Linked DNA regions of Homo sapiens: regions 1, 2 and 4 are each linked to region 3. The links come from fine-mapping of genetic effects on gene expression. A gene starts in region 3. Each other region holds a variant in brackets. All regions are shown on one strand. Distances are between the middles of the regions. Region 1 overlaps NME7 (NME/NM23 family member 7). Region 2 overlaps NME7 (NME/NM23 family member 7). Region 3 holds the start of NME7 (NME/NM23 family member 7). Region 4 overlaps NME7 (NME/NM23 family member 7).

Region 1 (8,126 bases), 82 kb after region 3:
ATATTTATTCAGCATAGGTAAATATGGTACTTGAAAATCTGGGTAGTTGGAAAGCTGGCATTTTTATTTTTAAAAATTGAGCGAGAAAAGAAATCAAAGGAAAGTTGAGACAAAAATAATTGGTCAATTAATTGTTAAATAATTTGTTAAACTAGAGACAGAACAATTTATCACTGCTTTTTACTTTGGAAAGACAGATAATAGAAAAAGTACATGGTTTTTGGAGCTACAGTCACTTGGATTTGAATCCTGGCTTTGCCACTTGCTAACTTGTAAGGGCTTGTTACTTAAGCTTTCTGAGTCTCATTTTTCTCATTTGTACACTGTGGATATATTTATTTTGTTTAGCACATGCAGAATTTATTAGGTGCTGAATTTCAGTCATTCCCAAATATTCATTGAGAAACTGCTAGTGAACAAGTAATAAAGATGGACTAAGCCCTGGTGCTCTCCAACACATAGAGGTCAGCTAGATAGGAGAAAACCATCGAAGGAGACTGAGAGGGAGTAGCCAGTGAGGTAGGAAGAAAGGCAAGTAATGAAAGCATTCCAGAGTGTAGGATGTGACAAACTGTGTCAAATACTGTTGGTCAGGTAAGGTGAGGGCTGAGAATAATTAACCAGTGGACTTAGCAACATGGAGGTAGTAAGGGATTTTAATGAGCAGCTTTGGTGGAATGAAAACCTAATTGGTTGTGGATTTAAAAGAGACTGTAGGAGAGGAAGTAAAAATGGAAATGGAAAAGAAAGACATTTCTTTTGAATTTTGTTGTGAAGGGAACAGACCAATGGGAACTCTCGAAAGAGCATGCCCTTTCTAGTTTGCTACTCTATCATATTCTCTTGTCACACCACTTCTACTTCATTCCTTCATTGATCATCTGCCAGGTCCCTGTAGGTATTTGAATTTTCATCTGTACCATAAAGGTTCTCTCGGACCATGCAATCAAAGCATCTGGTATAGGACTAAAAGGGGTAGTTGCTGTTGTTATTGATTAAAAAGAATAATAAATAATGGCAGCAATATGATAGAAAGGCAGTTGGTATCTTAGGAATAGAACACTTTTTATTCTAGTGTCTTACCACTGGAAATGCTCAGGTGTATACACTACTATTTGAATAATTCCTCATCATCCTTGTGTTTAAAAAAATGCTCATCAGTGTGGCACATTAACACATTCTATAATCTTTTCATTTTAAATTTAATGAAAAATAAATACAGTTGATCCATAAACAACACAGGTTTGAACTGCACGAGTCTACTTATATGTGGATTTTTTTCAACAGAAGGATTGAAAATGCAGTATTTGCAAGAGGTGAAACTCACATCTACAGAGATTTGACTTTTCCTATAAGCAGGTTCCACAGGGCTGACTGCAGGACTTGAGCATGCATGGATTTGAGTACACACAGGGATTTGAGTACCAATCCCTTGTGTATACCAAGGGCTATTTGCATTGAGCCAGACATTGTTTTAGGTGCTAGGGGTCCTACAGAGCTATACAACTTAGTTCCCTCTTTTTCAAATTTATGATTTGATGGAAGATAAGTACCCAAATAACCATAACTTTGGGGGAACAAAGGTTGCCGGAAGGAGGCATCAGGAAATGCCTCCTAGTGGAAAGTGGTATTTGAGGTGGCTCTTTACACATTGGTAAGATTCTTTGGAGCTTGAGTCAGAGGGTTTTATAGGAAATAGTAGAAATAATAGCAGTGAAAGCTTAGAGACAGGAAAGCATCTAAATAATTAAAAGAACTGATTAGTGTGAACATCTTTGTGGCTAGTTCAAATTGTTGTGTTGTCATTTTAGTGAACCACATGCAAAGTGAATAACACAGCCTGAATCTGTTTATAAAACATGGTTCATTTGATTTTATTTTATACTAGGCCTATAGTTAGTTTTAAGTAGCTGTAGTTCTCAGATTCCTGATATTAATCTCTGTTCCTATAAAATTTCCTAGTTTTAAATTTTATTTTACATATTTTAATGAAAAATTTAAAATTAAATTTGTGTCTAATTAACTAATGCTTTGGGGAGAATAAGAACTTTATATTGGTATTTCCAATATTCAAAATTTATTAAATCTTTGTCCACTATATTCCTGGAACAAAATGACACATATTCTCATTGCTTTGATTGATACTTCTTTATATGCTCTTCTGGTTCTAAGTCTTGAAACAGGGTTAATTTAATCAGTGTGTCTTTGTAAAACTCATTTTTAGAAAATCTGAAACAAAAAATTTATATGATGAAACTCTAAAAGTAATTGCATGATTCTCCTCCCCCACAGAAATATCTTGTAAGTTCAAGATAAGAGATCACATTTGTCAAAATCATTTCTCTCTGTCTTTAGGAAATGGAGTTGTTTTTTCCTTCAAGTGGAGGTTGTGGGCCGGCAAACACTGCTAAATTTACTAATTGTACCTGTTGCATTGTTAAACCCCATGCTGTCAGTGAAGGTATGTTGAATACACTATATTCAGTACATTTTGTTAATAGGAGAGCAATGTTTATTTTCTTGATGTACTTTATGTATAGAAAATAAAGTATACTTTTAGTATTTCCATTTTTTTTCTTTGAAGGCACTTGAGTAAAGGTGACAAAATATAAGGGAAAATCTGTCTAAATCTCTATTTGTCTTTTCTTTGTGGATTTTTAGGAGGTGTTCTTTGAGTTGCTGATCATGCTCAGGCTCAGTCATACTGTTACAGATCTTGGCTAATTGACTTTTAGTCTGCCTTCTCTCTTTCTAATCACAAATTGTGATTCACTTAATTTACTTCAATAGCACTTTTTTTTTTTTTTTTTGAGACAGAGTCTAGTTCTGTTGTCCAAGCTGGAGTGCAGTGGCATGATCTCGAGTTACTGCAACCTCAGCCTCCCGAGTAGCTGGGACTACAGGCACATGCCACCATGCCCAGCTAATTTTTGTATTTTTAGTAGAGACAGGGTTTCACCATATTGGTCAGGCTGGTCTCAAACTCCTGACCTCAGATGATCTACCCACCTCGGCCTCCCAAAGTGCTGGGATTATAGGCATGAGCCACTGTGCCCAGCCAATAGCACTCCTGTTGTACAAATTAAAACAATGTCTGCCATACCTCTAGTATACCCTTTCTGAGAAGGCTGGAGAAATTTCCTTCAGTTCTTTGTATCTGAAACAGTTCTTTGACATATGTATGTATATACATGTTTGCATATATATACATATATAAAGAGAAAGAGTTTGCAAGTTCTTTTCTTATTTTTGTCTCAATTTCTTTATTTTATTTATTTTAGTCTGGTATATATATTTTTGTTAGGTATCTCAAATCTTTTTGGAAGTAAGATGGGGTATGGTTAAAAAGATCACCCTTAAAAAACTAGAATATACTAAATAATATACAGAAGTGATTGGATTTTAAAATTTTATGTCTCCTAAGTATCCAAGTAATCCATGTATATAGTAGAAAATTGGAAATAAAAAACCATTAAAAATGAAGTAAAAAAATACTGAATTCCCATCACCTGAAGATAGTCATTGTTAATGTTTTGATGCATTTCCTCCAAATCATTTTTTTCTGCATTTGTATGTGCATGTGTGTACACTGCTACACATGAATGTAATGGTTGAGATGTAGGTCTATAGGCTGTTGTTTAAATATAATTTTTGTGAGCATTTCTGGCTGCTGTTAAGTCCTCATTAATATTTTAATAGATTCTTTAATATTTAACAGCAATTGTATAGATGTAGTATGGTATTTGGATACTTAGGTTGTTTTCAGTGTTTTGATATTAAAATTAAAACTTTGAAGAATATCTTTATAC[G/A]TAAATATTTGATGATATCTCTAATCTTTTCCTCTGGCTAGTTTCCTAGAAATAGAATTACTTGTTGGAAGGATATGAGCCTTAAAGATCTTGCTGCATAATTAATACTTCTTTAATTTTTTAGGAAGTATTTTAGTATATTGTAAATCCTTAGGACCATGATTATAAGTAACTAACATGCAGCATGGATAACAAACACTTATGGAGAATATACCATTATGTGCCAGGTGGCAGACTGGTTCCTTATACATTATTTTTAATCTTCACAGCAAGTATGTCAAGTAGGTAAATTTGTTGCTCTTTTCCAGATAGGCAAGCTAAGGTTCCATGAGATTAAGTTGTTTCTCCTAATTTGGAATGGAAATTGAGGATGCAAACCCTGTTTGTTTGTTTGTTTGTTTTTAATCTCCATTCTGTTCCCTCTATACTCTATTGCCCTAATAGCAATAGCCACAAAAAAGTCACATGGCACATGATTAGTAACAATTCCATAGGAAGTGATAGTAATATTTGAAATGGCTGGTGTTGAAAATTTATGGAAAAAAACCTGGGATTTTATGTTTCACTCATTTTTCTTAGCTGGAGAGATTGTGTATGTGTATGTGAGTGTCTACACAGGTGTGGTATCCCTAATCCAAAAATCTGAAACCCAAATTACTCCAAACTCCAAAACTTTTTGAGCACAGACATGAAGCTCAAAGGAAATGGTCGTTGTAGCATTTTCAACCACTGGTTTATGTTTATTGGATTTTTGAATTGGGTATGCTCCACAAATACGTATCTACAGATATTTCAAAATCAAAAAAAAAATTGAAATCCAAAACACTGCTTGTCACAAGCATTTCTGTAAGGAATATTCAACCTGTACACACACACATGCACATACATACACCCGTGTATATTTGTGTACATATACATATATACATAAACACACATAGTACACTCACATTTTGAAAAAGTTCTTGTTTATAGGCATCAACTTTTTAAAAAGCTTATCCTTGACACCCTAAAATGTTTTATTCAATTTACCTGATCTAATCCTTTTCAAGGAAAAATATGTTGCAAGGAGAGTGAAATAAAATAAAGTGGTACTAGAATAAATACTAGTTGTATACCTTAATAATTGCACATATAGCTGGGAGAACTGATAGCCACATGGAGAAAATTGACACGGGACCCCTTCCTTATACCGTATACAAAAATTAACTTAAGATGAATTAAAGACTTAAATGTAAAACCCAAAACTATAAAAACCCTAGTAGAAAATCTAGTCAATAGCATTCAGGACATAGGCATGGGCAACAATTTTGTGAACAAAATGTGAAAAGCAATTACAACAAAAACAAAAATTGCCAGATTGGATCTAATTAAACTAAAGAGCTTCTGTACAGCAAAATGAACTATCATCAGAGTGAACAGACAACCTACAGAATGAGAGAAAATTTTTGCAATCTATCCATTTCACAAAGGTTTAATATCTGGAATCTACAAGGGACTTAAATTTACAAGAAAAAACAACCTCATTAAAAAGTGGTCAAAGGACATGGACAGACCCTTCTCAAAAGAAGACATTCATGCACCCAACAAACACATGAAAAAAAGCTGAAGTCAAATTGCTAACTAGAATAACCAATGCAGAGAAGAACATGAATGACCTGATGGAGCTGAAAAGCATAGCACAAGAACTTTGTGAAGAATACACAACTATCAATAGTCAAATCAATCAAGTAGAAGAAAGGATGTCAGTGACTGAAGATCAACTTAATGAAATAAAAAGAGAAGACCAGATTAGAGAAAAAAGAATAAAAAGAAATGAACAAAGCCTCCAAGAAATATGGGATTATGTGAAAAGACAAATCTGCGTTTGATTGGTGTACCTGAAAGTGACGGGGAGAATGGGACCAAGTCGGAAAACACTCTTCAGGATATTATCCAGGAGAACTTCCCCAAACTAGCAAAACAGACCAACATTCAAATTCAGGAAATACAGAGAACACCACAAAGATGCTCCTCGAGAAGAGCAACCCCAAGACACATAATCATTAGATTCACCAAGGTTGAAATGAACAAAAAAATGTTAAGGGCAGCCAGAGAGAAAGGTTGGGTTACCCACAAAGAGAAGCCCATTCAGACTAACAGCAGATATCTTTGCAGAAACCCTACAAGCCAGAAGAGAGTGGGGGCCAATATTCAACATTCTTAAAGAAAAGAATTTTCAACCCAGAATTTCATATCCAGCCAAACTAAGCTTCATAAGTGAAGGAGAAATAAAATCCTTTACAGACAAGCAAATGCTGAGGGAATTTGTCACCACCAGACCTGCCTTACGAGAGCTCTTGAAAGAAGCACTAAATATGAAAAGGAACAACCAGTACCAGCCACTGCAAAAACATACCAAATTGTAAAGAACATCGACACTATGAAGAAACTGCATTAACTAATGGGCAAAACAACCAGCTAACATCATAATGACAGGATCAAATTCACAACTAACAGTATTAACCTTAAATGTAAACAAGCTAAATGCCCCAGTTAAAAGACATAGACTGGCAAATTGGGTAAAGAGTCAAGACCCATCAGTGTGCTGTATTCAGGAGACCCATCTCACTTGCAAAGACACATATAGGCTCAAAGTAAAGGGATGGAGGAATATTTACCAAGCAAATGGAAAGCAAAAAAAGCAGGAGTTGTAATCCGAATCTCTGATAAAACAGACTTTAAACCAACAAAGATAAAAAGAGACAAAGAAGGGCATTACATTAATGGTAAAGGGAACAATGCACAAGAAGTACTGACTATCCTAAATATGTATGCACCCAATACAAGCGCACCCAGATTCATAAAGTACATGCTTAGAGGCCTACAAAGTGACTTAGACTCCCACACAATAAAAGTGGGAGAATTTAACACCCCAGTGTCAATATTAGACAGATCAACGAGATAGAAAAATAACAAGGATATTCAGGACTTGAACTCAGCTCTAAACCAAGCAGACCTAATAGACCTCCACAGAACTCTCCACCTCAAATCAACAGAATATACATTCTTCTCAGCACCTCATCACACTTATTCTAAAATTGACCACATAATTGGAAGTAAAACACTCCTGACCAAGTGCAAAAGAATGGAAATTATAACAGTCTCTCAGACCACAGTGCAATCAAATTAGAACTCAGGATTAATAAACTCACTCAAAACTGCACAAAATACATGGAAACTGAACAACCTGCTCCTGAATGACTACTGGATAAATAACAAAATAAAGGCAGAAATAAAGATGTTCTTTGAAACCAATGAGAACGAAGATACATCATACCAGAATCTCAGGGACACATTTAAAGTAGTCTTTAGATGGAAAATTATAGCTCTAAATGCCCACAAGAGAAAGCAGGAAAGATCTAAAATTGATACCCTAACATCAAAATTGAAAGAACTAGAGAAGCAACAGCAAACAAATTCAAAAGCTAGCAGAAGACATGAAATAACTAACATCAGAGCAGAACTGAAGGAGATAGAGACACAAAAAACCCTTCAAAAAATCAATGAATCCGTGAACTGGTTTTTTGAAAAAATCATCAAAATAGATAGACTGCTAGCCAGACTAATAAAGAAGAAAAGAGAGAAGAATCAAATAGATTCAATAAAAAATGATATAGAGGATATCACCACTGATCCTGTAGAAACACAAACTACCGTCAGAGAATATTTTAAACACCTCTACGCAAATAAACTAGAAAATCTAGAAGAAATGGATAAATTCCTGGACACATACATCCTCCCAAGTCTAAGCCAGGAAGAAGTAGAACCCCTGAACAGACCAATAACAGGTTCTGAAATTGAGGCAATAATTAATAGCTTACCAACCAAAAAAAGTCCAGGACCAGACAGATTCACAGCCAAATTCTACCAGAGGTACAAAGAGGAGCTGGTACCATTCCTTCTGAAACTGTTCCAAACAATAGAAAAAGAGGGAATCCTTCCTAACTCATAAAATGAGGCCAGCATCATCCTGATACCAAAACCTGGAAGAGACACAACAAAAAAAGAAAATTTCAGGCCAATATCCCTGATGAACATCTATGAGAAAATCCACAATAAAATACTGGCAAACCGAATCCAGCAGCACATCAAAAAGCTTATCCATCACAATCAAGTGGCTTCATTGCTGGAATGCAAGGCTGGTTCAACATACACAAATCGATAAACGTAATTCATCACATAAACAAAACCAATGACAAAAAACACATACCTCAATAGATGCAGAAAAGGCCTTCAATAAAATTCAGCACCCCTTCATGCTAAAAACTCTCAATAAAC
Region 2 (8,126 bases), 31 kb after region 3:
ATATCTTGGCCTCTCTGTTCTTCCTTTGATTTGTAGCCACTGGCTTCTACTGGCCAAACCCATGTAAAAGTCCAAGGGCAAGGGGGTCCTTTGATGAAGTTCATGGAGGTCAGCTGACCAGGCTTAGAACAGGATGGAGAAGAGCAGAGTGAAGGTCTGGAGAGACAAATGGAAAATGACAAATGGAAAATGTCTAGCACATCCACTTTCAGACCAAGTAGTACAATAGCTATGGGATAAAGGAATAACAAGACTTGGCTCAGTGTGTTTGTGACCTTGACAACAGTTGCTTTTTTGGAAAAACTCAAGGTTAGCATTTATATTGTTATTTTCTGTGTTATCATTTGATTTCTAGCTCAATAATAAAGTCAATTTTCTATCTGAACATTGAGTAGTTTATAATTGCTTAAATATTTTCATGCCATTATAATTAGACCCAGAATTTATTTATTGATTAAGAGCCATCTCTCTTTTTGGAATATTGTGGTTCAGTTAATTGTTGGCAAGTGATCTCTCATGGGTAACTCATGTCCTGGAGTTACTTAATACTTTATCAAGTATATTCTTTTAAGATGGTAGTCAGAGAAGCCCATACTTACCAAAAAAGTAAGAAAAGATGTCCTCTTTGAGAATCTTTCTGGAAATATAAGTAAACAGACTTACAAACAAATATTAGAGTTTGGGGGGGAGTTTTTTGAATATGGAAGAGTGGATTTTTGCCATTTTGTCAAGATCTATTGCTGTGCACATTTATTTACTCCTTTAGATCTTTATTTTGGTAAATATTTATTTGAGTATTTTATGGTCCCAGAACTAGGAGAGCCACCTTGAAGTTTCAAGAGAAATAAATGTTACAGCTTCTTTGAGAATTTCATAATTTTATTAGAGAGACAATTTGTATTGTATAATACAAAATTAGACGACAACCCAGTGTTCTACTGTGGGAACATCAGTCTGCCCGTGAAGAAACAAGGGTCCTTGTTAAACTATGCCACTTAACAAGTCAACATCATTTTTGCCAAGTCATTTAACTTATCTGACCTTCTGTTTCCTCATTGTTAATGTTCCTTTGATCTCTGAAATTCTGTGAAAATCAAATTCCAAGTAACAGAAATATACATTGGCTGGGGTTGGTCTGGGAAGACTTCATAATAACTGTGTTTTCTTTGAGATGTCTAAAGGAAAGTTCAACCTTTTTAGAGAGGTTTCCCTTGATAGATGGTGTGTGGCATTGTTTTTTCACTGGGCAGTGATCTGCAGAAGTCAGAGAGCAAAAATTTTCAAGATTATGGGGCCCAAGGTGAAGAAGTTTAAAAAGCTGTTTCTCCCCTGAAACTGGATGTGTGCCTTTTTAAACGATTCCATCTTGTTTGACCAGCTTCCTGCTATATATTCATACTGTGGAAATGGTTCTTTTCTGGCATTTTTCACTAACAAAATTTAGCAGGAGTTAAGTTGAAAGTGCATCTTAAACATCACAGTTGGGGAAATACAGGTGTTTGTGTTCTGTTCATTGCATCACTGACTTTTTTCTGTAAACACAAAAACAATGCATTCTATTTCTGAGATATTGTCTTGAAGTAACATTAAAAAACACAATCTTGGAAATATGTGGAATTCTGTTGAAAATATTTTTTCAAAAGAAATTTTAAACTGTAATTTTTTAAAAGCAAAAAGTGATTGCAATGGTATACTTAGTGTTTAAAGAATTTAAGTGAAATAGGATAGCTAACTAAATTTAATGATTCACCTAACTTTTCCTTCTGTTATAATTTGTTTTCCTTTATTAATGAGAAATGCTAAGTTGGAGTTGACAAATTAGATTCTTCACACGTGAAGACCCTTTTTACTTGAGTTTGCCTTCTGTCTGTCTTTACAAGATAGATTTATGAAGAAGGAATAGGTCTCTGTGAACAACCTGGACAGGCTCAAAACTGGTTATGGTCACACTAAAGTAAGGTTAATATTTGACACTATTCAATGTAAGAAAATTTCTTGGTCTTTGAAGGAAGCCCTGGAGGAAGACTATTTGATAAAGGATAGGTACAAAACAAGTTAGTGCTTAAAATCTAGCCTCTGACAATGGGATAATATAAACCTTTTCCTTGTGTTTTTATTTCTATTGTACTTATCACTGTGACATCTAAGTAAAGCAATGTGAATTACTATGCTTGTTTGCCTACTGTGTAGATAATACATTTTTAATGATCTGCTATTGAGAGGTGACAGCATGCTGGCAGTCCTCACAGTCCTCAGTCGCTCTTGGCACCTCCTCTGCATGGGCTCCCACTTTGGCGGCACTTGAGGAGCCCTTCAGCCCACCGCTGCGCTGTGGGAGCTCCTTTCTGGGCTGGCCAAGGCCAGAGCCCACTCCCTCAGCTTGCAGGGAGGTGTGGAGGGAGAGGCGTGAGCGGGAACCAGGGCTGTGTGCGGCGCTTGCGGGCCAGCTGGAGTTCCGGGTGGGCGTGGGCTTGGCGGGCCCTGCACTGGGAGCAGTCGGCCAGCCCTGCTGGCCCTGGGCAATGAGGGACTTAGCACCCGGGCCAGCAGCTGCGGAGGGTGTACTGGGTCCCCCAGCAGTGCCAGCCCACCGGCGCTGCGCTCGATTTCTCACCGCGTGCCTTAGCTGCCTTCCCACGGGGCACGGCTCGGGACCTGCAGCCCGCCATGCCTGAGCCTCCCACCCACTCCGTGGGTTCCTGTGCAGCCCGAGCCTCCCCTACAAGCGCCGCCCCCTGCTCCATGGCGCCCAGTCCCATCGACCACCCAAGGGCTGAGGAGTGCGGGCACACGGCACTGGGACTGGCAGGCAGCTCCACCTGCAGCCCCGGTGCGGGATCCACTGGGTGAAGCCAGCTGGGTTCCTGAGTCTGGTGGGGCCTTGGAGGACCTTTATGTCTAGCTCAGGGATTGTAAATACACCAATCGGCACTCTGTATCTAGCTCAAGGTTTGTAAACACACCAATCAGCACCCTGTGTCTAGCTCAAGGTTTGTGAGTGCACCAATCGACACTCTGTATCTAGCTGCTCTGGTGGGGCCTTGGAGAATCTTTATGTCTAGCTCAGGGATTTAAATACACCAATCAGCACCCAGTGTTTAGCTTAAGGTTTGCGATTGCACCAATGGACACTCTGTATCTAGCTGCTCTTGTGGGGCCTTGGAGAACCTTTATGTCTAGCTAAGGGATTGTAAATACACCAGTCGGCACTCTGTATCTAGCTCAAGGTTTGTAAACACACCAATCAGCACCCTGTGTTTAGCTCAAGGTTTGTGAATGCACCAATCGACACTCTGTATCTAGCTGCTCTGGTGGGGACTTGGAGAACCTGTGTGTCCAAACTCTGTATCTAACTAATCTGATGGGGACGTGAAGAACCTTTGTATCTAGCTCAGGGATTGTAAACACACCAATCAGTGCCCTGACAAAACAGGCCACTCGGCTCTACCAATCAGCAGGATGTGGGTGGGGCCAGATAAGAGAATAAAAGCAGGCTGCCTGAGCTAGCTGTGGAAGGGAAGGTCCCCTTCCACACTGTGGAAGCTTTGTTCTTTCGCTCTTTGCAATAAATCTTGCTACTGCTCACTCTTTGGGTCCATGCTGCTTTTATGAGCTGTAACACTCACCG[T/C]GAAGATCTGCAGCTTCACTCCTGAGCCCAGCGAGACCACGAGCCCACCGGGAGGAACGAACAACTCCGGACGCGCTGTCTTAAGAGCTGTAACACTCACCGCAAAGGTCTGCAGCTTCACTCCTGAGCCAGCGAGACCACGAACCCACCAGAAGGAAGAAACTCCGAACACATCTGAACATCAGAAGGGACAGACTCCGGATGCGCCACCTTAAGAGCTGTAACACTCACTGCGAGGGTCCACGGCTTCATTCTTGAAGTCGGTGAGACCAAGAACCCACCAATTCCGGACACACTATGTTCTCAGAATGTTCAAGGCAAAGTGAAAATTTCCTTGTTTAGAAGCCACTTTTCACTCACCCTTACTGGAAGCAGCTGGCTTGAGGGAGCAGGTTCTTAGATGGTGTTGATTTCTTTCTATATATATGTATATATATATATCTCTTCTGAAACATATATATAAATATATATTTAATATATAAAAGTATATATTAAATATATATTATTTATTTAATATATATAAAATATATAAACATATATATTATATATATTTCTTCTAAAAAAATCAGGATACATGTGCAGAACGTGCAGGTTTGTTACATAGGTACACATGTGCCATGGTGATTTGCTGCACCTATTGACTCGTCCCCTAAGTTCCCTTCCCTCATCCCCCACCCCACAACAGGCCCTGGTATGTGTTGTTCCCCTCTCTATGTGTTCTCATTGTTCACCTCCCACTTATGAGTGAGAATGTGTAGTATTTGGTTTTCTGTTCGTGTGCTAGTTTGCTGAAGATGATGGCTTCCAGCTTCATCCATGTCCCTGCAAAGGACATGATCTCATTCCTTGTTATGGCTGCATAGTATTCCATGGTGTATATGTACCACATTTTCTTTATCCAGTCTATCATTGATGGGCATTTGGGTTGGTTCCATGTCTTTGCTATTGTAAATAGTGCTGCAGAAAACATATGTGTGCATGTGTCTTTATAGTAGAATAATTTATATTCCTTTGGGTATATACCCAGTAATGGGATTACTGGGTCAAATGGTATTTCTGGTTCTAAATCCTTGAGGAATCACCATACTGTCTTCCACAATGGCTGAACTAATTTACATTCCCACCAACAACGTAAAAGCATTCCTATTTCTCCACAGCCTCGCCAGCACCTTGTTTCCTACTTTTTAATCGTCATTCTAACTGGTGTGAGATGGTATCTCATTGTGGTTTGGATTTGCATTTCTCTGATGATTAGTGATGTTGAGCTTTTTTTCATGTTTGTTGGCCACATAAATGTCTTCTTTTGAGAAGTGTCTGTTCATATCCTTTGCCCACTTTTGGATGGGGTTGTTTGTTTTTTTCTTATAAATATGTTTAAGTTCCTTGTAAATTCTGGATATTAGACCTTTTCAGATGGGTAGATTGCAAAAATTTTCTCCCATTCTATAGGTTGCCTGTTCACTCTGATGATAGTTTCTTTTGCTGTGCAGAAGCTCTTTAGTTTAATTAATTAGATCCTATTGTCAATTTTTGCTTTTGTTGCAATCGCATTCGGCCTTTTTGTCATGAAGTCTTTGCCCATTCCTATGTCCTGAATGGTATTGTGTAGGTTTTCCTCCAGGGTTTTTATGGTTTTGGGTTTTACATTTAAGTCTTTAATCCATCTTGAGTTAATTTTTCTATAAAGTGTAAGGAAGCGTTCCAGTTTCATTTTTCTGCATATGGCTAGTCAGTTTGCCCAGCACCATTTACTGAATAGGAGATCCTTTCCCCATTGCTTGTTTTTGTCAGGTTTGTCAAAGATGAGATGGTTGTAGATGTGTGGTATTATTTGTGAGGTCTCTATTCTGCTCCATTGGTGTATGTGTCTGTTTTGCTACCCATACCATGCTGTTTTGATTACTCATGCTGTTGATTTCTATTATAATGTCATTCAAGGTGAATGTGGGTTCATGGAGACTCAGACTAAACTTTAGAAGCTTGTTGAACTGTAACCTTTATCATCTACATAATTTACTCCAGAATGTCTTTGAAGTCAAACAGAAGCAGATACTTGGCTTGAAATAGATTGACTAGTTACTGACCCTTCAACATGCAAATCATGAAAATAAGACTTCTAGTTAGTTTAAGATATTTCTCCATCATGCATTATGGAATCCATTTAGTATGATTTAAAGAAGGGAGCACTTTTGTATGAACAAAAATATTTTGCTGCCTATTGTGAAGTAATTTTTCCTAAAATACAGCATTACAAAAATGCAATGTACATTTTTTTCAGTGCACTGTTAGAATTACAAGTCTGATAAGTATGTCCTGATTTTTATTGTTGTGGTTGTGTTGGTTTTTAAAACCTGATTTGTCTTAATAGGGGGTTAAATTGAAAGAATATAGTTGCTATTTCTAGAAATCGAGCAAACACTGCAGCTTATATAGGCTGCTTAGTCCAGTGTCTCTCAGAAGGGAGTTTCCATCCCTTCTTGCCACAGTTAAGGAGAGTGTCTAAGAGCAGATCTGGAGTCAAGCTGCCTGGGTTCACCTCTGTTTATAAGCTGTGTGATCTTGGCAAATTTCTTTTTTTTTAAAATATTAAATGTTTATGGGTACATAGTAGATATATATATTTATGGGGTTCATGAGATAGTTTGATACAGGCATGCAATGTGAAATAAGCATATCATGGTGAATGTGCTCTGTCCCCTCAAGCATTTATCCTTTTGATACATTTATCCTTTTGATATCCTTTTGTTACAAACAATGCAGTTACACTCTTTAAGTTATTTTAAAATGTACAATTAAGTTATTATTGGCTACAGTCACCCTACTCTGCTATCAAATATTAGGTCTTAGTCATTCTTTTTAATTTTATTTTTTTTGTACCTGTTATTCACCCCCACCTTCCCTACAGCCTCCCACTACTCTTCCCAACTTCTGATAACCATCTTTCTACTCTCCATGTCCATGAGTTCAATTTTTTTTCATTTTTTAGAACCCACAGATAAGTGAGAACATGTGATGTTTGTCTTTCTTTGCCTAGCTTATTTCACTTAACATAATGATCTCCAGTTCCATCCCTGTTGTTGCAAATGACTGGATCTCATTCTTTTTTATGGCTTAATGGTACTTCATTGTGTATATGTACCACATTTTCTTTATTCATCTGTTGATGGACATTTAGGTTGCTTTCAAATCTTAGCTATTGTAAACAGTGCTGCAACAAACATAGGAGTGCAGATATCTCTTCAATATACTGATTCCCTTTTATTTGGGTATATACCCTGCAGTGGGATTGCTGGATCATTTTTAGTTCTGTGAGAAACCTTCAAACTGTTCTCCATAGTGGTTGTTTTAATTTACATTCCTAACAACAGTGTACAAGGGTCCCCTGTTCTCCACATCCTCACCAGCATTTTTTATTGCCTGTCTTTTGGATAAGAGCCATTTTAACTGGGATAAGATGATATCTCATTGTAGTTTTGATGACATTTCTCTGATGATCAGTGATGTTGAACACCTTTTCATATGCTTATTTTCCATTTGTATGTCTTCTTTTAAGAAATATCTATTCAGATCTTTTGCCCATTTTGTAGCTGGATTATTAGATTTCTTCCTGTAGAGTTGTTTGAGTTCCTTAGGTGTTCTGGTTATTAATCCCTTGTCAGATTGGTAGTTTGCAAATATTTTCTCCCATTCTGTGGGTTGTCTCTTCACTTTGTTGATTGTTTTATTTGCTGTGCAGAAGGTTTTTAACTTGATATGATCCTGTTTGTCCGTTTTTGCTTTGATTGCCTATGTTTGTGGGGCATTGCTCAAGAAATTTTTGCCCAGACCAATGTCCTAGAGATTTTCTCCCATGTTTTCTTGTAGTAGTTTCATAGTTTGAGGTCTTAGATTTAAGACTTTAATCCATTTTTATTTTATTTTTGTATATGGCTGGAGATAGGGGGTCTAGTTTCATTCTTCTGCATATAGACATCTAGTTTTCCCAGCACCATTTATTAAAGAGGCTGTCTTTTCCCCAGTGTATCTTGTTTGCACTTTTGTTGAAAATGGGTTCGCTGTAGGTGTGTGGATTTTTTCTGGGTTCTCTATTCTGTTCCATTGGTCTATGTGTCTGTTTTTATGTCAGTACCATGATGTTTGGGTTACTATAGCTCTGTAGTATAATTTGAAGTCAGTTAATGTGATTTTTTCAGTTTTGTTCTTTTTGCTTAGGATGGTTTTGGCTATTCTGAGTTTTTTGTGGTTCCATATAAATTCTAGAATTGTTTTTTCTATTTCTATTCTTTGAAGAACGACATTGGTATTTTGATAGGGATTGCATTGAATCTGTAGATTGCTTTAGGTAGTGTGGACATTTTAACAATGTTAATTCTTCCAATTCCATGAACATGGAATAGCTTCCCATTTTTTTTTTGGTCTTTTTCAAATTATTTCATCAGTGTTTCATAGTTTTCATTGTAGAGATCTTCATTTCTTTTGTTAATTCTTAGGTATTTTA
Region 3 (4,474 bases):
ATGTATGCATATGAAATAATTTTAAAAATATCATATAAACACATAGAGTACCTCCAATTTAAAAGTTATGATATTTTAATTGCTTCTGTATTTAGTACGCATGCATTTAGAAAGAGAAATGTCCCTTATATCCCATTCTCACAGAAGGCATTGTTATGTCTACTAAAAGTCTCAAAAAAAAAAATTAGGGGTGGTTTACTTCTAAATACTCCGTTTCACCATCCTCACCAATACACTCTAAATTGTCAGAAGTATGTCCTGAATTTTAGCCAAGCAAAGGGAATGAAGTTACTGTGGTGGTTTTGTCATCCATATGACAAGAGGAATTTTAAAGTAATTACTTTCTTAGGAGACATACCGACACAATTTGTATACACACACACACATATCAAAAAGGAGCTTCTGTTTAGATGTTTAACAAACGACAAAAAATATTACTCAAGATAACATAATTTATACTTTTTTGGTAATAAAAAGTTAAAATTAAAATAGTGTAGCTCCAAAAGTAAAAAGAGAAACATATCGAGCCCATGCTTTCAGAAATGTATACATTGTCTTACAGTACAGACTCAGATTTACCAGAGAACATATAAGAAGGTGATGCTACTGCAATGATATAAATATGACAAACTGTACACTAGATGACAACTGGTTTCACTACAAAAAAAGATCGTTCTCAGTACTAGATACAACTCAGTTCAATTAGTGAACCCGACGACTAACTTTCTTAACAGTCACAAACTTTTCTACACTTACACTCTACTGCTCCGAAAAGAGGTATCCAAAAAACCCTTCGTAAGAGTAACGATCCCTGAAACTGCCCTTGATAGCTGCTCTGCGAAACGTACAGGCACAGCGAGTGCCTGCTGGCAAATGCCAAATGAAGCGGAGGGGGTGAAGAAGTAAGTAGGGGGAGTGAGCAGGTATGAAAGCGATAGGCCGGGAAGCGACAAGCCTGTCAACTTTGCTGTCCGGGGAAGTCGAAACCTAAGTTTCATCCCTGTCTGAAAAAGTCTTCCCGGAACAATCTTTCCCTAAATCCAAAGCTACTGGCCACCGAGCTCCAGCCAGACCTCCGTCCCTTTCCAACATCCTTAGTTATACCTGCTTGTCCTCGGATTTACCTCTAAGATTCTTATTCTCCGTATTTCAGGGGGCTTCACTTGATAGGCTCTTCGGATCGGTATCACCAGGTTAACTTCTCACAGACCTCTTCCATTCGGAAGCCGACCCGCCCAGTCCCTCCGCATATCCAGCAGCTCTCTCACTCCTAACCACTTCCGATTACTCAGGGTTTCGCTTCCGGAATACGTTTCCAAAAGAGCAGGGTAAACAAATTCTGCAGTGCGTATAAACTCAAGTAACACAGAACACACACTGTAAGGCCTCCGTAAGTGAAAAGCGGACAGATTTCTACTTTAAAATAAAATACCGTACAGCAACTTTTGGAGCCCAAGCCGCATATTCACTTAAACTTCCGGGCCAGCTGTTAAACAAACGGAAGTAAAACTGCCGGAAACAGAATAATGGCGTCTCGTAGCCCCAGGCGACAGCGTGGAGGGGCGGGTCTGTCGATTGGATGAACGCAGCTGAGATTACTCCCAGCCACTAAGGACGAAGAGGTGGGGCGGTGGCGTCCCACGCCTCGTGCGACAGTGGGCGGGGCTTTGTTGCCTGAGTAACCGTATGATGGTGGTGGTGGTGGTGTCTTCCTGTCTCAACGATACCTATTTTCTAGTGCTGAGATCCTGAGACAATGGTGAGTGCCAGGGGATGCCAGAAGAACGGCTCTGGGGTCCTACTTACTTAGCTTTCCAAGTCTTCGGGCGGATGGGCACTTAAAGTTGTCCGGTCCTCCCGACCTTCTCCCCGTTATCTCTTTCCCCCTTCCCACGGGCTGTTCCTGCAGTCTCCTCGCTCTCCGTATTTCTTACAGCACCCTGAATTCCACTAATGTTACTAAGTCTCTAGAGTAATGAAACAGAAAATTTAGGGTAAGGCATCGAGTCTAATAACCTGTTTTGAACAAACATTATGTGTTTGCATTGTTCATCATGGCATTTTTCATGTTCACAGATTCACATTAACGCGCTTTATTAAGAGTATGGGGTGGTGTGTATGTGACTGTCTCAACACTGATCTGAATCTCCCTAGATCTTGGAGTCTTTTTGCTTTTCTGAGTGGCAGAGCACTGCCCCACGCCCCCACGAGGGCCATTAACAGGTGTATGTTGGATCAGCGCTCTTCTATCCAGTTGGTTACCTTCTAGGTCTGTGCTTGCTTTTCTTTTCTCTTTTCTTTTCTTTCTTCTTCTTTTTTTTTTAAACAGAAATTTCTCCTGGGATTGCTTGGAGAGCTTCTGGAATTCACTGTTTGGGCTTCACCCCTGGAAATTCTGAATGAAAGGAATGGAGCTCGGTATTTGCATTTTAAATAAGCCTATAGGTTATTTTAATTCACCCCTATGTTTGAGAGGGTTCTAGTTAATTCACTTAACTACCATATCTTTTAAGCACTTATGGATAACGGACTGGAGGATAGAAAGATCTTTAGATAGTTATAGCTATGAATTTAGAAACAGAGCCCTCACCCACCACCCCTTGTTTCTTCATACTACTCAGCAATCCTTTTGGTTACCCCAGTTTTCCCCTGACCCATTCTCTGTGAAGACATTTTCAAACCTTCCCTTTACAAACCCTGTCTTTTGCCCTCTTCATTTCTCCTTTCTAAACATGATGGAGTATAACAGGCCATTTCTTCAACCTCATGCCCCCAACCTACACATTGCTCTATATTTTTGCCGAGCCTTTAGTCTTGTATTTCTAGTGTAGAGAAAGGGATATTAAAGGATAATCCATCCATCTTTGCTCTTGATCTCATTTGCTTCCATCTGTTACATTTCGCTTCCAGTTGTTTTTTTCTTTCCTGTGCGTTCAGCCTTTTCCTCTCCAGTTTCTTCTCTTCAGTGCTCAAGTCACACATCTTATGAAAATTAAATAAAGCAAAACCATGTCCTCCATCCTGTGTTTATCCAGTTATTTCCTAGTCCTCCTATCTATCAGTAAACTTCTTGAAAGGATATTATTTTTACTTATATCAAACAGACAAAAGTCTTCTGTCTGGCTTCTTTAATGGCTTCAAGAAAGTTGTTCTTGCTTAAGTTTCTAATGGCCTTTTAAATACCAAATACAGTAATTACTTCTCAAAATTTACATTACTTAGTCTCTTTGTGACAACTGAGGTTCATAGTCATTAATTCCTTTTACTGGCTGTGCCTGGTTTTTGAATGTCATTCTTTGGAATTAACTCCTTGATTACTTTCATTTCTTAGTCTAGACATTTTCCTTGGGTGATTTTGTCCACTCACATGGATTCTACTAACACCTTTGATTTTGCTTCTAAATTTCAATTTTCCTCTCAGATCTACTAATGCCTAACTCAGTTGCTTCCCGGACACATCTGTCTCAAATGTCCTTCAAACTTAATATGACCAAAACTGAACTTGCTATCTTTCCTCCTGGTTTCTCCTATTTTCACCAAGTTAAATAATGCTACTACTATATTATAACCTAAACTAGAAATCAGAGTTATCCTACATTCCTCCCTCTTCTATTTCTCCCATATTCAGTTGTTCACTAGATCAAATTTTAGTTTGTCATCTCCTCATTTCGTGATTATTTTAATAGTGACTTTTACAGTCTGGTCTGGAAATTCTCCAATCCATTATTTTCTCTGCCACAAGAAGGAATTTTTAAAAACCCAACCTGTTGATTTACTCACCTCCTTAAAACTCTAGATTCCCTATTTCCTACAGTAAAATGTCTAGAATGGCACACAAGTTCCTCCATGAACAAGCACTTTTCTGTCTAGCTTTTGCCTTTCCCTTTCCATACTTAAAAAAAAAAAATTCTCTTGCCTTTTAGCTACTTGCTTTTCATTGAACATACCAAGCAACTTCAAACTGGTAGTATGCCTCCTCTTTCTACTTTGCACTTGCAATTCCTTCTACACAGAATACTTGCACCCTCTTGTTGCTTGCCAAACTTATTTATTCTCCTATTACAGGCCAACGTGTTCTTCTTGCCCACTTCCCAGAAAGGCCAAACATTGAGAATGCAGGAGTTGCAGCAGAGAAAGAGTTTAATGGAGGCAAGGCAGTTGAGTGGAAGGATGGGAAATATTTCTAAAATCCGCCTCCCTGACAGCTTGGAAGTTGTGGTTTTCAAGGATAATTTTGTGGGCAGGTTGGTAGGGAATGGGCGCTGCTGATTGGTTGGGGATGAATTTATAGGTGTTTCCAAACTGTCTTCCTGTGCTGAGTCAGTTGTCTAGGTGAGAGTCATAGGACTAGTAGAGTCAGTTTCTTGGTATGAGGCATGTATCTGGGTGGCATCAGGAGGTTTGCCAGAATGCAGAAGCCTGGAAAATATCTCAAGACCAATCTTAGGTTTTACAATAGTGATGTTATCTAAAG
Region 4 (6,350 bases), 52 kb after region 3:
CTGATGAAGAACTAACACAGGAGATAGATGTAGATCAAAATATTAAGTATTAATTTTACTTAGGCTGTCTTGTGAAAGCGTGTTTGAGAATGGTTGAGGCTTTCTTTCTATTCCTATTTCCTCTATCCCTTACACTGATCTGGAACTTGAGGCCTGCCTGAGGAAAAGTTGGATCTACAGAACAAACTAAGGGCATACTTGCCCAGGGTTCTCATCCTGCCTCCCAGCCCATGGAGCACAGGAGAGAGAGCACTAGAGAGAAACAGGCTTCCACTGCAGGTGCCGGACTCTGATTCCAATGTGCTTAACATGTGAAAGCAGGAGAACAATACGCTATCCCTTACTTGTACACTATCCCCTACTTGAGGGTCTGCAGGTCTGAGAAAAAAGAGGTCGGGCCACAAATAACCAGAAACCCTTAAATATGGCCGGACATGGAGAAGCAAATGGAAGAAGTAGAGAGAGAGAGCACTTTCTTATGGGAACAGGGATAGAAGTTACTTTACTCATGAGGAGCAAGAGTACACATTCCTAGTTGTTTTCTGGGTTTTATACCTTTAAGCCAATTGGCTGCCATGCTCTAGTAGACTATGGCTACTTCTCGGGGAACAGACCAGATGAATATTAGTTTAGTCTTGCTCTCACCTTTGGGAAACCTTTCCCTCAATACCAATTACTGTTGCTTTGTATATTGTCCTAGGACCAGTGGTGAGCAGTTGAGTTTTGGCTGCAGAAGGGCACCCTAATGCCTTAGAGGAATACCTTAGTTCAGTAACAGAGGCCTTGCTAAAAACTCACCCCCAATCTTTTTCTCATCTTTACTTATCTATAGTATCGTTGTCTAAGATGGCATGCTATTGATTATACGATAGACCCAACAACAGTGTAACTGCCTCCCAAATAATACAATGAAGAATGCCTTCTCATTATTAAATTCCCAGGGAGAAATTGATATTTTTTTCTGTAAAATAAGAATTCTGCCTTTCCATTCTACAATTCTCAGTCATATGGTCCTTGGTCAGTTAACAGATTAGAGTTGAATTTCCTTTTCAGCTCCAGCTTGAGCCATCTTTCCTTAGAAAGGGTTTGATTGATAGCGTATTTGGGTTAATTAATATCTTTTTGCCATCTCTTTTATACTTGCCCTGTTATGCTTTAGATATGTCTCTTGTAAATAACATATAGGTTTTTTTTCAATTTAATCTGGAATGGTTATATTTTCATTGGTAAAGTTAATACATGTACATTGAAATATGCTGTGATTATTGTTATTTTTGTATATGTTTCTATTTTACTGTTTTCCTGTTTTTCTATTTTTTTCTTCTTGCCTTTTCTTTGGATTAGTTGAAGAAATTTTTCTTCCTCTCTTCAGTTTTTTTTTTCTATTATATGGTTTTCTATTGAAGTTATAACAAATTACTACCAAGTTAGTCACTTAAACAATACAAATTTATGATCTTACAGTTCTGTCAGAAGTCCAATCAGATCTCATCAGGTAAAGATCAGGTGTTGATAAGACTGCATTTCTCTTGAGGCTCTAGGAAAGAATCAATTTCCTTGCACATTCCAACATCTTGAAGCCATCCACATTCCTTGGTTTGGGGCCACCTTTCTCCATCTTCAAAGCCACCAATAGCAGGCTTGAGTCCTCCTCACACTGACATCTCTCTGGTTCTCTAAAGCTAGGAAAGATTCTCTGACTTTAGGGACTCATGTGATGAGATTGGGCCCAGGGGAATAATCCAGAATAATCTCTACTATCTCAAGGCCTGTAATCTTAATCACATCTGCAAAGTCCTTTTTGGCAGGTGAGGTAATATATTTATACGTTCTGGAGATTATAATGTGGACATTTTTGAGGGGTAGTGTTATTCTGCCTACTATATTCTCTGTTGCTTTAGAGGTTATGTGATTTTTATACTTGTTCTTTATTGGTTAGGCTTGAAATTTTTTCATATATTTAACTTACAGTTCTATAATAATATGGCTCTCTCCCAACTCATACAACAAGATTAGGACACTTTAGCTCTAATCTTCTCTCTTAAATCTTACATAGTTTTGTTATTATTGTTGTTTTTGGACATTCAGTTTTTTTGCCTGCATGTTAGACATTCTTTTATTTATTTATTTATTTATTTTGATAGAAACAACATTTGCTTAGATTTACCTAAACATTTGTTCACCAATTTTTCTTGCATATCAACCTGTCCTTTTAGAATATTTTCTCTTCTTGTTATTCTTCATTTCTTCATTGTAAACTACCCGTTTCTTTTTAATCTGCACGTTTTTTATTTTACCCTCTTTCTTTAATGATACTATTGCTAGACACACAATTCTAAGTTGATGGTTATTGACCAATTTTCTTTATTCCCCTTTTCTGCTATTAGTAGTTACAGAATTATATATTCTATCAATTTTTAATATTTTTAATATATGCAATTAAGGGTATAAATTTCCTTCTAACTGCTTATAACTATATCCTATTATTTTTGATATGTAATTTTTATTCAGTTTGAAACATTTTTTACTTTCTTTGTGTTGTCTTCTTTGGTTTATTATTTATTTAGAATTATGTTTATTTCCAAACATACGGAGATTTGTTTTTCTCTTTTTGTATTGGAATCTAGCTGAATTGCATGTGTCTAGAGGACATATTCTTCATGATTTTTGCCTTTCAAACTGGTTAAGATTTGCCTCTGGCTTAGAATAGTCAATTATTAATGATCTATGTGTGTTAGAAAAGAATGTTTAGGCCAGGTGTGGTGGCTCACGCTTGTAATCCCAGCACTTTGGGAGGCTGAGGCGGGTGGATCAGTTGAGGTCAGGAGTTGGAGACCAGCCTGGCCAATGTGGTGAAACCTTGTCTCTACTAAAAAATTACAAAAATTAGCCGGCCGTGGAGGCGTGTGCCTATAGTCCCAGCTGCTTGGGAGGCTGAGTGGGAGAATTGCTTGAACCCGGGAGGTGGAGGTTGTAGTGAGCTGAGATGGCACCACTGCACTCCAGCCTGGGTGACACAGCGAGACTCCATCTCAAAAAAAAAGAAAAAAAAAAAAGAAAGAAAGAAAAGAAAGGAATGTTTAGTCTGCAGTTGTTTTGTATAGTTTTATATATTTATTCATTAGGTGAAGTCTGTGAATTGTGATGTTCAAATCTTTCACATATTTACTAATTTTTGGGCAGCTTATTCTATCAATTGCCAAGGTTTTATTAAAATTTTCTAATGTAATTATCATTTGTCTATTTCTTCTTGTAGTTATGTTAGTCTTTATATTATAATTTTAAGGGTATGTTACTAGGTGATTTAAATTGTTATATCTTCTTGGTAAATTGAATCTTTTATTACTATGAAGAGACCATCTTCATCTCTAGCAATGCCTTTTACTTTAAACTGTACTTTCTCTGATATTACTATAGCTGCACTGGCTTTCTTTTAGTTAACATTCGCATGGTATACCTTTTCCATTCTTTTTACTTTAGATTTTCAGTATTCTCTTCTATGTGTGCCTTTCATTAGTTTTTGTTTTTGTTTGTTTGTTTTTTATATCTTTTTTTTTCTTTAAGTTCCGGGATACGTGTGCAGAATGTACAGGTTTATTACATAGGTATACATGTGCCATGGTGGTTTGCTGCACCTTTCAACCTATCATCTAGGCTTTAAAATCCAATCAGATTATCTTTTTAAAAAAATTTTTTTATAAATACAGTTTTATAATCTGCATCTACTGTAGAGCACTTATTTGTAACGTAACTACTAATATACTTGGCTTTAACTCTGACATCTTATCCTGAGCTTTCTTCTCCTGCCTGTTTTATTATCTTATTTTTGATTGTTCGGATTGCTTGAGGATTTTTTTCATCTATTTTTTTTCTATATACAGTTAGTATTTACACTAGAAACTACAACATATGTACTTAACTTGATAAAGCTTAAATCTAATTAATATTTTAACCTCCTTCTTTAAAATCTAAGAATCTCAGAAGACTTTAGCTCAATTTTTGTTGGGATTTTTGCTGAATTATATGCTGTTTTTGTTGTGTATTTTTTTTTGTTTTTTTTCCATGAACCTAATGATTTACTATTATTGTTTTATGTAATGAGTATTCATTTAGGTTTCTTCACTTTTTGCTTTTTATCCTTTCTTTTATCTCAAACATTCTGTTTGGGATTATTTTACCTTTGCTTAAATTACATTTTTAAAAAATATTTTCCTTTTGAGTGTGTTTACTAATAGAAAACTC[A/TTTCA]GTTTGCACTCATCTGAAAATGTCTTTATTTCACTTACATTCATGAAACTATTTTCTTATCTCTGTTGTATCTTTTTGTTTCTCTGTGCTTCATTCTGAATCTGCTTTCTTCTGTCAAACCCTTTATCTAGTTCTCATTTTCATTATTGTATTTTCATCACAAGATATTCTAATATATTCTTTTTCAGATCTGCTTATTCCATTTTGTAGCTTACAGTTTTCTATTACCTGATAATGTTTTGTAGCTTGTCTTTTAGTCCTTTAACCATAGTTTGCACAGATACTTTACAGTTTTTCTCTGATTATCCTAGTATCTGAAGTATTTGTGGGTCTCTCTCTTTTCTGTTGTTTCTCCTGGTTTTCCCTCATGTTGGCCTTTTCCCTGTATGTGTGTATGTGTCTGTGTGATTATCTTTCTATATGATTGCCATGTGTGTATGTGTGGGTGTATTGCATATATGTAAATAATATATGTGAGATATGCATTTTCATATGAATTATTTGAGGTACAGGATGACATTACTTTCCTACTAGGAGGGAATTAATTGTCTTTGCTTCTGTCTTTTTCCCATAGGCATTAGCAGTCTGTATGATTGGTAGTTCAAAAATTCTAAGTTTTGAGACTGCTTAGATGATGTGAACTTGTATTGCCATTCAAGACCTGGTTGTTTCTGATTCACCTTAAGCGGGGGTGGTATAGCCTTTGGGTCCAAATTATTTTAGGAAGGATCATCTCTTGGGTTCTGTTACCCTTTCCCAATGATGTACTGCAAATCAAAGTTCAGATTTTCCAGATAGGCAATGCTGTCAAGTCAAAAACAACTTTCATTCTTACTTTTCATTCTTTGGTTGTTTTTTTTTTTTTTTCACTTTTGTCCCAGTAATTATTTATGATCTAGTCAATTTATCTTTAATTTTTAAAAGATTTTTTAAAAATATCAACTTTTTTAGTTTTTGGTGGAAGAATTGTTCTGAATAATTTTGCTATTGTTGCCAAGCAAAAGTCTTGATCACTGAATTTTCCACCAAATTACAGGTGCCTCATTTGAGACAGTTTTCCTTTATCCATGGGGCAGATATACACTTTATGCTTGTAAACAAAGTATGAGAAAAACCAAAAATTTAGCCTTGATGTTTAGAATAGGTTTACTTTTAGAATAGGTTTAGAATAGAATATTTACTTAAGACAAATATGAATCCCATATAGATTAAAGTTTACATATTTATTCTTTTTGGTCAATGGCATTTAAAGAGTCCATAGCACTGCACTATCTAAGATGTTTAATAGCACTGTACTATCTAAGACTTTATTACATAGCAATAGCACTATACTGTCTGGGACATTTATTGTACTGCAATCAGTCATCTTTCTCAGAAATATATTTGCTGCAATTTTTGCTCAGAACCTGATGGTATATGAAGACATTTATTGCATAGCTCTGTGAGAATTGTTATTTTCTGGAAATCTATATTCTGGGTTCGTGAAGGCTGGCCATACTGTTTTTTCACAAGAAGTAGTTACCGTGTATTGCTAAGAAGTTTTAATCTTAAATAGTGGTTTTTATAATGTTTTGTTTTCTTTTGAGAATATCTCACGCTGCATCTTACAGTGCTTGCCTCAGTGCAGGCAAGAGGATTACTAAGTGGTAGATTGTTACACTGATGGCTCTCAATGAATCATACCTTGTGGTTTTCTCTCACAGTGACTCTGAGCTTGACCACGTGACTTGCATTGGCCAAAGATATGTCAGCAAAAATGACTCAAGGGGACACTTGATAATTGCCTGTACATTGGTTGATGTGTGGTGGTATTTGAAGAGGCCTGCTCTAGCCTCCTTAAGGACCACAGGAAAGAAAAGCCTAGTTGTCTCAGCTGAGCACAGCCCCCAGCTGGCCCACTAGCTGAATACAGCTGTGTGAATGATCCTAGGTGAAACCATTGCACAGCCTACCTACAGAACCTTGAGAAATTGTTGTTTTACGCCACTACATATGTGGATGGTTTGTTATGCAGTTACAGATAACAGAGATACTACTGATATATCTTTGTCACCCTATTGTTTCTTCATGTGCTGTCTTTATTTTTAAATTAACACATATGATGCTGA

The links.
Region 1: its variant is fine-mapped to the expression of NME7 in subcutaneous fat (GTEx, PIP above 0.99).
Region 2: its variant is fine-mapped to the expression of NME7 in whole blood (TOPMed, PIP 0.96).
Region 4: its variant is fine-mapped to the expression of NME7 in tibial artery (GTEx, PIP 0.94).

The regions. Positions count from the first base shown.
Region 1 is chr1:169,281,638-169,289,763 of GRCh38, reverse strand. NME7 (NME/NM23 family member 7) reads left to right here. Exons shown (of 12, transcript NM_013330.5): 7 at 2,356-2,461. Among named protein-coding and RNA genes, the nearest start is that of NME7, 82 kb to the left of the region's middle. The variant G/A (reference allele first, on the strand shown) is at 3,810.
Region 2 is chr1:169,331,733-169,339,858 of GRCh38, reverse strand. All of the region lies in intron 1 of NME7 (NME/NM23 family member 7), which reads left to right. Among named protein-coding and RNA genes, the nearest start is that of NME7, 32 kb to the left of the region's middle. The variant T/C (reference allele first, on the strand shown) is at 3,629.
Region 3 is chr1:169,364,993-169,369,466 of GRCh38, reverse strand. NME7 (NME/NM23 family member 7) reads left to right here and starts at 1,670. Exons shown (of 12, transcript NM_013330.5): 1 at 1,670-1,759. The coding sequence starts at 1,757. BLZF1 (basic leucine zipper nuclear factor 1) reads right to left here and starts at 1,272. Exons shown (of 7, transcript NM_001320973.2): 1 at 1,125-1,272. RefSeq lists enhancers at 693-1,192, 1,451-1,530, 1,193-1,694, 634-1,833.
Region 4 is chr1:169,311,967-169,318,316 of GRCh38, reverse strand. The region is part of intron 3 of NME7 (NME/NM23 family member 7); the gene reads left to right. Among named protein-coding and RNA genes, the nearest start is that of NME7, 53 kb to the left of the region's middle. The variant A/TTTCA (reference allele first, on the strand shown) is at 4,243.